3 separate regions of the Homo sapiens genome follow, and all the other regions are linked to region 3. The links come from fine-mapping of genetic effects on gene expression. A gene starts in region 3. Each other region holds a variant in brackets. All regions are shown on one strand. Distances are between the middles of the regions. Region 1 overlaps CFAP206 (cilia and flagella associated protein 206). Region 2 overlaps GJB7 (gap junction protein beta 7). Region 3 holds the start of C6orf163 (chromosome 6 open reading frame 163).

The links. PIP is the estimated chance that this variant, and not a neighbour inherited with it, causes the effect. A credible set is the group of variants that fine-mapping cannot tell apart.
Region 1: its variant is the best candidate, but not a certain one, in a credible set for the expression of C6orf163 in whole blood (TOPMed, PIP 0.50).
Region 2: its variant is the best candidate, but not a certain one, in a credible set for the expression of C6orf163 in testis (GTEx, PIP 0.61).

Annotation. Positions count from the first base shown.
Region 1 is chr6:87,410,690-87,416,537 of GRCh38, forward strand. CFAP206 (cilia and flagella associated protein 206) reads left to right here. Exons shown (of 13, transcript NM_001031743.3): 4 at 3,121-3,211; 5 at 4,997-5,185. Among named protein-coding and RNA genes, the nearest start is that of CFAP206, 5.6 kb to the left of the region's middle. The variant A/G (reference allele first, on the strand shown) is at 2,472.
Region 2 is chr6:87,314,821-87,320,668 of GRCh38, forward strand. The region is part of intron 2 of GJB7 (gap junction protein beta 7); the gene reads right to left. Among named protein-coding and RNA genes, the nearest start is that of SMIM8, 4.8 kb to the right of the region's middle. The variant A/T (reference allele first, on the strand shown) is at 2,936.
Region 3 is chr6:87,341,374-87,347,221 of GRCh38, forward strand. It overlaps C6orf163 (chromosome 6 open reading frame 163), which reads left to right and starts at 3,440. Exons shown (of 5, transcript NM_001010868.3): 1 at 3,440-3,874. The coding sequence starts at 3,727. It overlaps SMIM8 (small integral membrane protein 8), which reads left to right. Exons shown (of 4, transcript NM_001042493.3): 4 at 1-956.

The DNA of each region.
Region 1 (5,848 bases), 69 kb after region 3:
AATTTGCAATTACTTATTCTCAGTTGTAAATACAATATTTGTATTAGTCATTATTGCCTTCAGCTGCATGAAACAAAAGCCCACAAAATAGTAGTATACACGAGATATTTTTCTCATAACACAAAATCTGGAGAGACATAGACCATTCTTCCTGGCTTCCTGGGGCACACCATCCTTGCAATATGGTCATCTGGTGGTCAAAAGATAGCTACCCTGCCTCTAGGCAGAAAGAAGGGGGAAAGACAAAGGGCAAAATATGTGTGCCAATTGGGTCTATCACCTTCTATCCAGAAAATAATAATTTTCCCAGAATCCCTCCCATCTACTTAACATTTATTGACCAGAATGATATTGTAAGTGACCCAGGGACATTTCACTTCTTTTTTCTTTCTTAGATGAATAAATCCTTGCCCCAATCCAAATTGAGGCTCTGTTAGTAAGGAAGGAAGGGCAGGGAAATTGGGCAGGTAGCAGCATCTGCTACAGTATTTTAGTGAAACCTTGTTACTAATGTCTTACATTGCAAACATTAACTAGTTCGTCATATACTGTGAAGTTAAATAGAACTAAATTAATTTGCATTTCTCTAATGCTGAGTGATGTTGAGCATTTTTTTCATGCTTTTTGGCGATTTGTATGTCTTCTTTTGAAAAATATCTATTCATGGCCTTTGCCCACTTTATAATGGGGTTATTTGTTGTTGTCGAGTTGTTTGAGTTCCTCGTAGATCCTGAATATTAGTCCTTTGTCAGATGCATAGTTTGTACATATTTTCTCCCATTCTGCAGGCTGTCTTTTCACTCTGTTGATTATTCATTTTGATGTGTAGAAGCTTTTTAGTTTATTTAAATCCAATTTGTCTATTTCTGTTGCATTTACTTTTAAGTCATGAATTCTTTGCGTAGGCCAATGCCCAGCCCCCTAGGTTTTTTTCTGTTATTTTTATAGTTTCAGGTCTTACATTTAAGTCTTTAATCAATCTTGAGTTGTTAATTTTTGTATATGGTGAGACATTGGGATGGGTTTCATTCTTCTGCATATGGTAATCCAATTTTCCCAGCACCATTTATTGAATAGGATGTCATTTCTCCAGTGTATGTTTCTGTTGACTTTGTCAAAGATCACCTGACTGCAGGTATGTGGCTTTGTGTCTGGATTTTCTATTCTGACAATGAGATACAATCTTACACCAGTTAGAATATCTTTAAAAAGTAAAAACATAACAGATATTGGTGAGGATGCAGAGAAAAGATGGTATAAAGCTTGTTCTTAGCAATAGGGGAAGTGATTGTGGCAGTCAGAAATTTTATTGGAAAGCCGTGGAAGAGAATCCAGGAGGGGCAGAAAATAAGTTGTTCTCCTTGTCATGACCCAAGAAGAGTTTTCCATTCCCCCCAATTCCCCAACTCAACTAAGTTGGAAAGAATCAAGCCAATATACTTTTAGTACGACAGGTACATAAACTAACAACATATGTTATATTCAAGTGACAATTTTTTTCTCAACTAAAAATCATGTGGATGAGCTATTTTTTTAAGTGTGCATTTTAGAACAGTACTTCTGTATGTGGAGGGATCCAGGTGCACAGGCTTCTGCAAAGACATAGTGTCCAATCCTCAGTCTTGCATTCTCCCCTCCCTCCTCCCAGGAAAGCAGGGCTGGTGCTCAGGGAGATGGGTTGAGAGTGATGCTGCCAAGTGCCTGCCAGCTGCAGTATATTCAGCCTACAGAGTGAGCAGTGAAGGAAGTGGGGGAGGGAGGTGACCAGTAGAGATGAGAGAAGGAAAGAAAAACTGAGGTTGATATTCAATATAAAGAGGCAAGGCAGAGAAGGGGAATGAGCCATCTATGTGGGGGCTCATAGGAGAAAACAGACCAGGAGAAGAAATATCAAGGGTAGAACCAGAGAAATTTTGTGAAGAGAGGGGGGTGGTTGCAGCAGCTTTTTAATTTTAATTTAATTTAATTTAATTATATTTTATTTTTTGAGACAGAGTCTCGCTCTGTCCCCCAAGCTGGGGTGCGGTGGCATGATCTTGGCTCATTGCCATGTCCACCTCCCGGGTTCTCAAGCGATTCTCCTGTCTCAGCCTCCCGAGTAGCTGGGACTACAGGTGTGTGCCACCATGCCTGGCTAATTGTTGTATTTTTAGTAGAGACGGGTTTCACCATGTTGACCAGGCTGGTCTCGAACTCCTGACATCGGGTGATCTGCCCACCTCTGCCTCCCAAAATGCTGGGATTACGGGTGTGAGCCACTGCACCAGCTGCAGCAGCTTTTTATAAAATAAAATGAGGAGTGTTGTTCAAGGCACAAATAAATAGTAATGAGGAACTCTAGAAGAGTTTTAGACTGGAATATAAGCTTTGTGGAACATTTACCCACATTTAGACTGCTCAAACTAACCAAAACATCAGGTTTCTTGCCTTCAACTAGACTACTAGCCACCTGGCATGATGATTATTGGTTA[A/G]CTCAAGGGAAATAACTTATTACTTAACAAATGTTATTGGTAGTAAAGATATGGAATCAACCTAAGTGTCCATCAACAGATGATTGGATAAAGAAAATGTATACACACATACACACAATGGAGTTTTATTGAGCCATAAAAAATAATGAAATCATGTCTTGTGGCAACATGGATGGAACTGGAGGCTACTATCTTAAGTGAAATAACTCAGAAAGTAAAATACCACATGTTCTCACTTATAAGTGGGAGCTCAATAATATGTACCCAGGGACATAGAGAGTGGAACAGTAGACATTGAAGACTTGGGAGGGTGAGAGGGGAGCGAGGGATAAGAAATCACTTAATGGGTACAATGTCCACTATTCAGGTGTTAGCTACCCTAAAAGCCCAGGCTTCACCACTACACGCAATATATCCATGTAACAAAATGACACTTGTACCCCCTAAATCTATAAAAATAAAAAAAGTTATTGGTTAAATAAACTATAAAGCCTGAAGTCCTCAAGGAGAAAAAAAAAATAAAAGGGGTTATTGGTGAATCAATATCAGGAACCACTGCTTTTCCCTTTATTTTTGAAAATAACTTTAGGAAATACTTGACTGTCTCAAAAACTATAACTAGAAGTATTCATGGGACATTCTTTTCTAGCTTTGTATGACTCGGCTATTGGATACTAAAAATCCATCCCTGGACACTATTAAGATGCAAGTCTACTTCGATATGAATTATACGAATCGAGGTAATGTATACTACCTATTTTTATACTTAAAAAATTTCATACTGTGTTTCAGCTAAGAAGGGCTTCATTTGGTTGACAATGAATTTAATTGTTTAATCAATTTAACAATTTAATTTTTGGCAATCAACTTTGAGGAATACAACGTTAGAAATGCTAAATGAAAAAAAACCATTGGCCTTTGTGAGTGTTAAAAGTGAATTCCAATTATTGTGCTCATAATTATTGTTTCCAGTGGCACTAATACATAATAATTAGGAATTCAGCCCATTGAAGTTAAAAGTTTTTAATTTATAGATTTTCTTGTTCCTGGTTTATGTTATTATCTCATTATAATTACCTAAATTATGTAACTATTCAAAAATGAACGATGGGGAGTTTAAGTTTAGAAAACGTTTCAATATGTAAATTTTTTTTGAGACAGAGTCTTGCTCTGTCACCCAGGCAGGAGTGCAGTGGCACGATCCACAGATCACTGCAACCTCTGACTCCCATGTTGAAGCAATTCTCCCACCTCAGCCACCCGAGTAGCTGGGACTATAGGTGTGTGCCACCATGCCCAGCTAATTTTTGTATTCTTAGTAGAGACGGGATTTCACCATGTTGCCCAGGCTGGTGTCGAAATCCAGGCCTCAAGCGATCTGTCTACGCCTTAGACTCCCAAAGTGCTGGGATTATCAGTGTGAGCCACCATGCCTGGCTCATTATGTAAATAATTTAATGCATACATCAAAGACAAGTTGGAAACAAAAGAAAAAGGAAAATGTAATTCTCTATGGACTGCCTCTGCACCTGCTATATAAAACAAGTCTATTTCTCTATGGACTACCTCTACCTCTACTGTATAGTACAATCATTATTAACAATTTGGTGATGTTTCTCTTTGTTAGTTTCAGTTATGCTACCTATGTAAAAGTATATATCTTGCGTTTTTGCTTAATAGTGAAATTTTAAAGCAAGAAATAGTCATATAATTGATAAAATTTAACCTATAGATTTTTAAATTTGTTATTTAAACATATTTTTAATTTGCAAAAAGTTCTCAGTTGGTTTTGTGGCAAGGGTATAGGTATAAACTGTGCGTGGTGGATATGTTAATTATTGACCTTGTAATAGTAATATGGGTTGTCTTATAGAGTCATTGCAGAATTGTACTTGCAACAACTCAGGGAACATAGTGTCCTGCCAAAGTGAAGCCTGTCCCTCAGCATATCACAGGAGGAATGAGGAGGGATACAGTTCTCGATGCAACATCGTATTATCAATAATGCTTTTCAGAGGAAATTTATCTAGAACTGAAATAAAAATACACGTAACCGAAAGGAACATATATACTACATATATATTTCTGCTACTATATATGCTTATGTATAGTATACTACATGTGCTTACATATAGCATAAATATATAATATGTATATATTTATTTTTTCATATAGTATTAAAATTAAAATATATAATATATATTTTGTAGAAATGGTCTTCTTTATTTTCTGCTTAATTGGGAGGTTTTAGCCTTTTCTGATATCTCCTGTTTAGTTTGGCTGTTTAAAGTCTTAGGTGTTTTGACAAAGTATTCCATTTAAGTCACTGTAATAAATCTTCCCTCCTGGATTTTTGTCTTGAGGCTACATGCTGGCCACTGTTTTTTATTTCATTATTACAGCTTAAGAAATTACTTGTTTTCCTGAAGTAGAATTGCCATATCCAATCCAGTTTTTCTCTAGTTCTTACGTAAGAAGAATTCTAAAAATTAAATATATAGAACATTGTTATTTGGCAATTTTAGTGGAATTTCTCGAAGAACATCACCGGGTCCTAGAGTCTAGATTAGGCTCTGTTACCCGAGAAATTACAGATAACAGAGCATGTGCTAAAGAAGAATTGGAAAGCCTCTACCGGAAGATTATCAGCTATGTGTTACTCCGCTCTGGCCTTGGATCCCCTACAGACATCAAGACTGTCAGAGAGGTAACAGGTAAAAAGTATAACCAATTTCCATTTCATAAGTGAAAATATATGGTCATTGTATTTTATAAAACATGTTAAATTAGAAGTGTTAAAGATTGAAGTTCCCTTTTTATCTGAAAAAAAAAAAAAAATCAGCACAAATGAGTTAAAATGTACCCAGTCTCCTTTTACACTGTGTATCCATTCTAAAACTCAAGTAGCACCTCTAGAAAGTGAAATATTGCTAATTTTCCTAGAGCTGTACATATCTAGGCACCTATTACACCCCATTAGAGAAACATTGATAGTAGGATTGAGGGTACCAGGCTGATTGAGTAAATGGAAAAGCTGAAAACGGATATTTCATATTGATGAAAGAAATTGAGTCTGTCATTTAAAATGGGTGATGGAATGGGGCACCATTTTATCCTTAGGAAGTCTTTGCCCTCTTTCATCCTTTAAAATGAGGAATAGGAAAAATGTCTAGCTCTCCTATGGCTTTCTTCCATAATTATTTTAAAGCATCCATTTTTTGGCTCAGATCCCTAATTAGAAAGCTTGTTTTCATGCCCATTGCCAAAAAGTTACTGCTGGATGCTTAATTATTAAAAATGGACATGAGGCAATGGCATAACTCTCAGTAATCCAGCTTTGATGCGTGATAAGTTTTATTATGTATCCTATAATCAGG
Region 2 (5,848 bases), 27 kb before region 3:
AGGAATGGAGCTTGCATGGAGCTCCATGGAACTTTCCTGGGGCATCCACGCCTTCACAGAACTGACATTCTAATGGAGAAGAGAAACAATAAAGAAATAAATCATATGATGTCAGGAAATAATAAACTTTTTTTAGGTAACTCAGGAATCTCTCTTGTGCACTCAGAGACGATAGCTCTCTCATGTGTACTCAGAGCAAAGATAGGCCCAGCTATCTTTCCACTCTGGCCCCCTCATTTAATTAGCCACCATTGGAAGAAAGCATCTCTTTTCCACAAAAATGTGGCAAAAGCACCACTCAGTGGAAAAGAGTTGTTTTCTGGATGCTGCTTTTCAGGAGCATATTCCCCGCCGACCCCTTGTGTGAAGTGGGCGTCTGCTGATTTCATCTTCCTAGCATCTGTTTCCCAACCCAACTGGTGGGGAACTGCACCTCCACAATTATGATAATGTGACCTTAACCCTGGCCTGTCCAGCAATGATATCTTTCCTCCTGTCCAAAGCAATTTGTCCTGAAAAAGGGCACAAACCCAAACAAGGCCAAAAGAGTTGTTCCATGAGATTTGATATATGGGTGATAGGGAAGGCTTCCTTTCCACTTGGATGTATTTTAACAGGATAGAAACCTGGAGCTGCCAGCAGGGATGTGCCCAATATATGAAATGAGTGTATTTAAGAAACAGAATAGAGGCCAGGTACGGTGGCTCACACCTGTAATCCCAGAACGTTGGGTGGCCAAGGCGGGTGGATCACCTGAGGTCAGGAGTTCAAGACCAGCCTGGCCAACATGGCAAAACCCCATCTCTACTAAACATACCAAAAAAAATTAGCAGGGCATAGTGGGGTGTGCCTGTAGTTACTATTGCTTGGGAGGCTGAGGCATGAGAATCACTTGAACCTGGGAGGTGGAGGTTGCAGTGAGCCAAGATCACACCACTGCACTCTAGCCTGGGCAGCAGAGTAAGACTCTATCTCAAAAAAAAAAAAAAAAAAAAAGAAAGAAAGAAAGAAACAGAATGGAGACATGAGACAAGACATTCCTGTTGACATGTTTGGATGTCCCATATCTCACTGCTGAAATCTGTTCCCTCCATAGACTTCCCATTACATATGGTAACATAACTCCTTTTGAACTTGAGTTAGTTTCAGTCAAGTTTCTGTCATTTGCAACTGAAATAACAGGTGTGTGCTGAGTCTTCAAGACCCTATATTCAACAAATTCTCTCTTCAGCTTCTTCCTGATCACCATCCCTTTAGGGGATCAGATTTGTTTTCAGTTGGCCAAGGAACAAGAAAACTTGCTGTTCTCAATTTCTTCTGTATACATGAGCTGATGCGCAGATATCTTCCCTCCCACTTAAGCAAGAAGGAAATGATCGCCTTTCCTATCAACTCCTATGCTAGTCACTAGATATTTTGAATGGGTGGGGGTAGAAGTTGCTGGATCCATGTGCCCAATCTCTGCAAGAGCTCAGGATTGTCCTGCTCTAGTCCCCTCCTCATAAAATTATTTCTGTTTCTTAGCCTTTTCTTTTTCTTGCATAGCTCCAGTTCTTCTCCAAAAGTCAGCTCCCAGAGAATACAATTCCTACACACCAAGCAGGGCTGAGCTATGGGAGTGATGCCTCCCCTGATTATCCTTGTGAAGGATAAGTAGGAGTGAGGCAAAGGGCAGGTGTAGGAAAGAGTGTTCCATCAGGAAGTGTGAAGCCAAACAGTGACATGATTAGATGTATATTTTAGAAAGGAGGACAACAGCTTGTAGGGGAGCTTGGCTGGTGGCAAAGCCACTGGGGCATTAATCTTCTTAATCATCTTGACTCCTTTGGCTTTCAAAACACTCCACTTTTGATCTTCCTCACTCTGTTTTGACCATTTCTTCTCAAACCCTTTTGTGGTCTCCTGCTGTACTCATTCCCTAAACGTGGATGCATCTGAGCCTTCCTGGACTGGCCCCATCTGTTTCTCCAGTGTCATTTCTCTCATGTTCCATTTTATTATCCATTCTTTAGCAATAAGAAACACACCGCACCACACTATATGGCTTCATGCTTTGAGGTTTGTGTTCATTCTGTCTCCTCTGACCTGAAACATCCTTTCTAACTTCTTTGCCTTGCTTATCACTTTGATTGTGATTCTGGGCTCAGTCATCAGCCACATACCATCCTCTGTGTTATATCCAGGCCAAACAACATATAATTCTCTGTGCTTCCATAGAATCTTGTGCAAATCACTTTATATTGAAAGTATCTGGCTGGGCGTGGTGGCTCATGCCTGTAATCTCAGCACTTTGGGAGGCTGAGGTGGATGGATCAGTTTAGATCAGGAGTTCAAGACCAGCCTGGCCAACAGGGTGAGACCCTGTCTCTACTAAAAATACAAAAAAAAAAAAAATTAGCCGGGCATGATGGCACACGCCTATAACTCCAGATACTCAGGAGGCTGAGGTACAAGAATTGCTTGAGCCTGGGAGGCAGAGATTGCAGTGAGTTAAGATTGCGGCACTGTACTCTAGCCTGGGCGACAAAGCAAGACCCTGTCTCAAACAAACAAACAAACAACAAGAAATTATCTGTTTTAATTTGTCTCCCTCACTAATCTTTAATCTTTTCCTTTTTTTTTTTTTGAGACGGAGTTTCGCTCTTGTTGCCCAAGCTGGAGTGCAATGGCGTGATCTCAGCTCACTGCAACCTCCGCCTCCCGGGTTCAAGCAATTCTCCTGCCTCAGCCTCCCAAGTAGCTGGGATTACGGGCACGCGCCACCATGCCCAGTTAATTTTTTGTATTTTTAGTAGAAATGGGGTTTCATCATTTTAGCCAGGCTGGTCTTGAACTCCTGACCTCAGGTGATCTGCCCGCCTCAGCCTCCCAAAGTGCTGGGATTACAGGCGTGAGCCATGGTGGCCAGCCTCCCTCACTAATCTTTAAGAGTTTT[A/T]AGGGCAAAGATTATGTCTTAATCATCTTTGAATTCCTGGTGCCCAGGAAAGCATGTGGCACACTGAATGCACCAAAAATTTTCCTGCTAACCTGAGCCTAACTACACTGATAATAAACTTATGCTTTTTTCAAAAGAAGAACAGTTAGAATTAAAATGTTTTCATCTCATATCACTTTTAAGGTACTTTAAGACTTTAAATAATATAGAATAAATTATTATTATTTCTAATATTTCAAAATGTGAGAGAAGTAAATACAAAATGACCTGACATGAAAAGTATTAAAAACAGTTCTGCTAAAATTATATGGAAGAAAAAGAGTAATGAATTGTGATCCTCTAATAATATCAGTTCCCCATTCTATTTTTTTTTTTTTTTACTAATTTATATATCACACCATTTGATAGATTTCATTTTCTTCCCAGGTCAGACATTCCTGTGATGCCAGACAGCTATACAGTTTTCAAAAATAGCAAGATGTTTGTCCTTCTTACAAGCACCACTAGAAAACAGACTGCTCCTTAAGCTATCAGGCAAATACTCTTTGATCCCAGGGAATTTACAATGGAGGGCATATTATCAGTTTCTATTGGCACCATAATTCTGCACAACAACGAACTGAACCTCAATGTGGCAAACAAAAATACACATATTTAAGTTCATGAATCTGCAGAGTTCAGCTGATCTGGGCAGGCTTGACTGACCTCACTCAAGGCTTGCACACCTGTCTGGTCAATCTACAGTGGCTTCAGTTGGAATGACTAGGATGACTTGGCTTTGCTCTGTATGTTTTTCATCTCCAGCAGGCTAGCTGGAGTATGTTTACCAGTTCAGGTGTTTTTCCAGCTTATTTTGTGTGACATTTGCTAATATCATATTAGCAAAAATAAATCACAAGGGTGACCCCCCAGAGTCAGAGTGGGAGAGCATGGATAAAGGTGGGGACACAGGGAGGGGTGAAGAATTAGGAAGATTTTTTCAAATTACCAAAACGTGTAATTTTTTCATTTGTCAGCTAATAATTCATTCAAGGGAGTCAGATATCCTTGGCTCACATTGATCATATCAACTACTTTGGCTTGGCTTTCTGGTAGGAAAAGAAATAAGTGCCAGCATTTATGTTATTATTTTTTAAAAAAAGACCTGGCTTTGACAAAATACCAGTAATGTATGATTTTTATTAAATATTGTCAACCAACTATTCTTGCCTGAATTTTAAAAAGCGCTAGTGGCATCAGTGGTCCCTTGAGAAGGCTCCCAGACCACCAGTGTTGTTCCCAGAGCACACTTTGGGAACCCCAGATTAAAATAGATATCATTGGTCCCTTTGAATGTGTTTTCATACAGATTAATCTTTGCTTTATGCAATCCCATCAAATACAAAATCTCCTGGAAATATTATTAAATATTGATGGCCCTGCTCAAAATGAAGATTACAAAAGCCGAATCAGATTGGCATCACTCTTCAAAGTAATTTCTTAAAAGCAGCATAAAATGGAATGAATTATAAACAAAAATGACTAAACACGTCCTATCATTCACATTGTATTCATATCCATGAAATGGGCAAGGCCTTCAGGCTTTTCTCTGTTATCTTTACCTACAGCTTGTGCTCTTTTCTTACACATGCTTATGTTTCTTGTATTCTTTCATCTGATCACTTTCTATTGATCATGACAGTAAAAGTACTTTGTTTCCATAGTGATATTTGACATGTTACAGATCACTGAGAACCCTAAGGGATAAGAAAAAAGTTTGGGTCTGCTTAGGATGCAACATAATAATATTTTATAGCCTTCCAATTGTTTTTAGCTACTGCAGTAACAGCTTTTTAATTGAAATTTAACTTATTTTGTCAGAAGATTGCCTTGTAATACCAGTTGTCAATGAACTTTTAAAAATTAAACCTCAAGCCAGGTATATACCTAAAAGAAAGGAAATCAACACATCAAAAAGATATCTGCTCTCCCATGTTTACTGCAGCACTATTCACAATAACCCAATTTAGATGCAATCTAAGTGTCCATCGACAGATAAATGGATAAAGAAAATGTGGTACATATACACAACAGAGTACTATTCAGCCATAAAAAACAATTTGCAACCACATAGATGGAACCGGAGGACATTATTTTCAGTGAAATAAGCCAGGCACAGGAAGACAAACTTTGCATGTTCTCACTTATTTGTGGGAGATACAAATTAAAACAAAAGAACTCATGAAAATAGAGTAGAATGATGGTTACCAGAGGCTGGGAAGGGTAGTGGGGATGGGGGGAGTGGGAAATGGGGATTTTTAGCGGGTACAAAAGTATAGTCAGATAAAATGAATAAGATCTAGTATTTGATAGCACAACACGGTGACTACAGTCAGCAATAGTTGATTGTACATTTAAAAATAACTAAGGGTATAATTGGAATGTTTGTAACATAAATGATAAATCCTCGATGTGGTGGATACCCCATTTACCCTGATGTGATTATTATTCATTGTATGCTTGTACCAAAATATCTCATGTACCCCATAAATACATACACATAAATATTAAAAATTTTTAAAAATTAAACCTCAAATCAAATGTGAAGTTAATTTGGCTTGGGAGAAAAAGTTTTAAATTCGAAACATATTTACCAAAGCTTTACATAAACCCATGCCAAAATATTGGTACCTTCTATTCCAACTATTCTGTTCATTTTAATATAACTTGTGTAAACCAGAAAGTCTATGAGATAGGTCTCAATCAATTTAGAGGTTTATTTCACCAATGTTAAGGACCATGGCCTGTGACACAGCCTCAGGCAGTCCTGAGAACATGTGCCCAAGGTGGTCGGGCTACAGCTTGATTTTATACATTTTAGAGAAATGGAAGTTACAGGCAAAGACATGTATCAATACATGTAAGGTATACATT
Region 3 (5,848 bases):
TGGCACCTGGCCCAGGGGCCTAGGACAGAGGTCAAGGCTAGGCCCCTGTGTCTGGCCAGATTCTGCCTTATAGAATTCAAATCTTTCTTACAAGGGTTCTGGACCCGTTTCATTTCTAGATATATACCTAATTCTCCAAATCATTGTCATTGGGCCTCAGTAGTAAATCTTACCTCTGAAGTCTTGCTTCAGTCGCTATTAATATTACCAAGTAATAATAACAGCACAGGCAGAGTTTATCATAATGTTATTTTTAATTTGTCATACTTTATTATGGTTTTGTAAGGTACATGAAAATGTAATTATGTGTGATTTGTAGGTATTAAAGAACTTAGCTAATTGAATTTACATGAAACTAAATAAAATCTTTACTACTGAGCCCCAAATATGTATTTGCTATGCCTGTCTGTATAATGTACTTCATATAGTTTAAAATGCACTTCAGTGATACAAAATCCCTTTTAAAGACTCTTTTGTTTTTGTTTTCCCTGTGTATTTTGGCTATCACAAAACTAGGGTTCTTCTGTTTTTAACTTATGCATTTAATGACACATTGCCATCTTTTAGAATTTTTTACTATTCAACAGAATAAGCTGATGTTTGGTGGCAGAGGAGTTATTAGTTGCGTGAACTGTCAAGAGATTGCAGTGCAGGAGGGCAACAGAAACTGTACAAGGTGCAGACTTGAGTCATGTAAGATCTATGTGAATGAACCAAAGTAACTAGAGTCAGTCAAGCACAAAGCTGTGAAAAGTAGTGTGTGGAAAGAATCATACTGAATTTTAGGAACAAGTACCTGACTATGATACTTTTTACAGAGTGACTACAAGTTGTAGGACAGTCTTTGTGTGTGCTGAGTGTCAACAGCTGCCTGCCTATGTGTTGATGTTTTCATCCTTTCTTTGTTGAATGAGGGTATAACCATCAAAAATAAAATACCTTTCAAATAGTCCAAAGATTCTGAACATTGAACTTCACCTGATCCAATCCTGTCAGTTTATGGTTAAGACAATAGGCTGAGAATGGCTAAGAGATTTACCAAAGATCAGGGAGATTCTCAGTCAGGAGTAGAACCTGTATCTTCTTGCTCTAAAGTCTAGGGATCTTTTCACCATACTATACCACCTTCTATGTGTAAATGTGCACATAATAATAAAGCAGCCACATTAGCCCTTAAAAATAAGAAGTTTAGATCTTAAGTAGAGAAACACTCCTGTACTTTAAAACAGAATTATGTAAAGGACTGTTAACTGCCAGCTCCCTCACAAGACCATCAGAACAACCTGATGATCAAACAAAACTAAGCTTATTAAATCTACTGCACTAAAGGGAAATACCACTTTTACAAAGTTAGCTGTATTTAAGAATGGGATGGTCAGGGGAAGATATTAAAGTCTTTTGGAAGTCTGAGTTCAAGTGATTAAAGAAGGGTCTTTCAATGCAGGAATCTGGTTGAGAATGGGCAAGGTACCTGACAGAACAGATTAGATCTTGAAGCAAGTCTTGATTAGTAAACTATTGTTCAATAAATGTTAAGTGAACTCTTTGCCCAGGGGAGTAGTCTAATCTTCTGATGGAAGAGCTGTTTGCCTAGATCAGCAAGCTGTCCAATTGATAAATTGTTTTTCAAGGATTTCCTAAGGCAAACACTGAAAGTATTTATTGGTTTTACAGCCTTATCTTCCATAGGAGGCCCAACTCTTCCAATTTGCCAGACACTAAGGAAGTTCAGGACTTTCAGTTTTAAAACAGGGACAGTCCCAGGCAAATCAAGGCCAGTTAGTTATCCTTCCATCTGGGCAAGAATTTCTAGTAACAGATAGGAAAGTTATTGGCACAAGTAGCCTCAGTTCTCAATCCAGATAATTAACTGTGTGGATGCAGTAATCCTCATTCTTCATACTAATTCATCTCTTTGTTTTTAATTCCTCTCCAAGTCCCAGTTAACCCTTTTCTTGAAGTCAAATCTGGCACAATTTGATAGTTACTTAAGGTCTTCAGCCAGTTATCAGGCCGTATGTGTTAATATAAATTATAGAGTAACTTGTGGTACACTTAGCTCAGGGCCCTATGGGAGTCCTGTTGTTGAAATTAATTTCACTGATGGCACTCACTTATTATAAAATAGTCCTGCCAAGTAGATGCAGCATATGACATTGTCAGGCAATTTTATAAATTCAGTTACTTGGTACAATCAGTTGCACAGATTTTTGCGATAGGTGGAATTTCTATGGCTGTTTATCTAAAATTATAGGAACAAATTAGTTAACCATGTGATTTTTAAAACCAGGCTTAGTAATTTTGAATGCTGCCTTAATGAAAGTAATTTCTTCTTCAAGATACCATGATATTTCCCAGTTTTATTACCATGGCACCAACACATCATGTTTATTAAAAACCTAAAAGAAATTAAGCTACCTCCATTGCTGGCCTTAAAAGAAATTAATTCTTTAAAAACTAATTTAAAACAAAGTGTGGTAGGCTGACTAATGCTCTCCTTCCCTGCAAAAATGTCCAGATCCTAATCTCTGGAACCTGTAAATATGGGACTTTACGGATATGGGTAAGTTTAGGATTTTGAGATGGGGAGATTATCCTGGATTATCTAGATGGGGCTGGTATAATCACCAAGGTCTTTAAAGCACGGCAGAAGATCAGAGGAAGAGACAATGTCACTATGGAAGCACTGGGGGAAAAGGCTATATGATGCAAGGCCATGACCCCAAGGAATATGGATGGCCTTTAGAAGCTGGAAAAGGCAAGCAAACACATTCTCCTCTGAAGCCTGCAGAAGGAACCAGCCCTTCTAACAACTTGATTTTAGCCCCTAAGACTCATTTTAGACTTCTGATCTCCAGAAATGCAAGAGGATAAATTTGTGTTACATTTAAACTATGAAGTTTGTGTAGTTTGTCACAGTGGTGCTATGGTTTGAATATTTGTCCCCTGCAAAACTCATGTTGAACTTTAATCCCCAACGTGGTAGTATTGAGAAGTGGGGCCTTTAAGGGGTGAGTGAATTCATTCATGGGTTAAGGGATTGATGGATTATCATGGGAGGAGAACTGGTGGTTTTATAAGAAGAGGAAGAGAGGCCTGAGCTAGCATGTGAGCTCAGCCCCTGGCCATGTCATACCCTATACCACCTCAGGAATCTTCAGTGAGTTCCCACCACCAAGAAGATTCTTACCTGATGCAACTCCTCCACCTTGGACTTCTCAGCCTCCATAAACTGTAAGAAATAATTTCATTTTCTTTATAAGCTATCCAGTTTCAGGTATTCTATTATAAGCAACAGAAAACAGAGTAAGACAGCAGCAATAGGAAACTAATATAGAAAGTATCAGGAAAATGAATGGCTGTATCATGCTCCCTTTTGTCATTATTTGAAGTTGCTTTTATGAGCAAAGCTTGTCTTACCTAGCAACAGTTGCCAAGTAAGTTAACAACTTAATGCTAGAGTCTGGGAAGGAGCAACTACTTAAATCTTCCCAAATCTGGTGCCCATACCTTCTATGGCAGGGGCTTTTAGCACCATTCTTTAACGTTAGACACATAACCACAGCCTAATCACTTGAACCATTTAATCCTTACCAGCCTCTAGCATTATCCTAAAACCCTGAACCTCTTCCAGCTTTCTTAAACTTTCAGCTTTTCTTGAAACGACTTTTTCTGATTCTAAGATTATTTTAACTGTAAGTAGGAGAAGACATCTGAAATTTAACTATGATCAGAAATTCAGATTACAAAAACTTTGTTTGCTGTGCTGTTTGTAATAAAATAATTCCACCAGCCCCTTTTGGAAAAACCTTCAAACGGATCCATGAATACAAGCCACTTAAGACACGCTTTTACACTCACAAAGACATACTAGGTAAGTGACTTTATCGTTTTCCTTTGTTCTAATGCTTCATAGCCTTATGTGTCATTCTTTCTGTTACATAGACTTTTATCAGCTTTTTTCTCTTCAGAGTTGCTTGTCCCTACAGGGATATTTGAGGAGAATATGGGTTGGAATACAGCTTCTCCACTTACAGTTGTATGTATTGGGCAGGGTATTTAGCCTCTCAATCTGTTTCCTTATGTGGAAATAAATATACTAATACCTATCTTACAGGTTGTTATGAGACTTTAATGAAGTATTTGTATCTATTATAAATCCTGGCACATAATAGTAAATGTGAGTTCATTTTGCCCTTGGCCATACTTGAGCACCTTTCAGTATGTGTAGGAGAGGAAATATTATCTCTAAATAACACCCTAATTGGATGGGCACAGTGGCTCACACCTGTAATCCCAGCACTTTGGGTGGTCGAGGTGGGCAGATCACTTGAGGCCAAGAGTTCAAGACCAGCCTGGCCAACATGGCGAAACCCCGTCTCTACTAAAAAAATTTAAGCAGGCATGGTGGCATGCGCCTGTAATCCCAGCTACTCGGGAGGCTGAGGTAAGAAAATTGCTTGAACCCAGGAGGTGGAGGTTGCAGTGAGCTGAGATCGTGCTACTGCACTCTAGCCTGGGTGACAGAGCGAGACTCTGCCTCAAAAAAAAAAAAAAAAAAAAAAAATTTTAAAGTACCCTAATAAATGGGTAAAAGAAACTATATAACCTTTAAATAGTAGCTGGTAGCATAAAAGTAGATACATATAGATAACATGAGGACGTTTACTGTACATACGTATGTATATATAATAAGCAAATCAAATTGTACTATAGGTTTCCATCTCTCTTTTATCCCCGTAAGAGTTTTCAGTCTGACCTTGAGCCTTGTAGGTATTTTCCTAAGAACTCTCACAATACTTCTCTGATCCTCTCTTCCTTTAAAATGGTAAACTAAGGGTGATTTCATTTCACTCCTGATATTTGAAAATATAAGAAGCTGGAGAGCAGAGGTGTTTGGAAAAAAAAACTAAAATGTAGGGGGAGATCAAATTGGAATCATCTTCTAAAAACATCAATTCCAAAATTGTTTCTTAGCATTTAGTAAGTGCTTAGTATGAATGATTCATTATGATCTCTAAAGTGACTTTTCATACCCAGGACAGTGTATCTCCATTCTTAGATATACCTTAATGATTGATTCCTTATGCCTTATGGAATATCTAACCCAAACCTTAAGTGGATAAGTTAAATCTATTGTTAGAAATTAATCTTTTCTATTCAGTGACCTTTGTCATTGAACTGTTTTAAGTTAAAAAAGAAAGAAAGTTGAAATTGTCTGTTCTTTATAAGCATTTTGAAATGTCCGTAGAAGAGCTAGTGAGTATTTCATAGGACGATAGTTCTCAATCCTGGCAGTGCACTATATAGAACTTTGAAAAAAAATATTAATACAGATATCCAAACACAGACCCACTGGATTTAATACTAATCTAACACAGAGCCACTAAATTAGGACCTCTACGGTCAGGACTAAGCATGTGTATTTTTTCCTTCACGTTTAAATAACCTTTTTTATTTCAAGATAGTTTAAGACTCACAAGTTGCAAAATAGATCAGAGTTCCCCTGTACCCTTCATCCAGCTTCCATTGATATCTTACATAATCCTGGCACTTTGTCAAAGCTGGAACACTGGCATTGAAACAATACTATTAACTCAGGTACAGACCTTATGTACACTTTTTTCCCCCGGCATAGAGTTTTATGAAATTTATCATGTGTGTATATTAATGTGCCATCACCACAATCACAACATGGAGCTGTTCCATCACCACAAAGGAACTCCCTCGTGTTACCCCTTAGCTGTCACTCTCTTCTCCCCAAACTTGAACCCCTGACAACCACTAATCTGTTCTCTATCACTATAATTTTATCACTGAGAATGCTATCTAAAGAATCATAGATTAT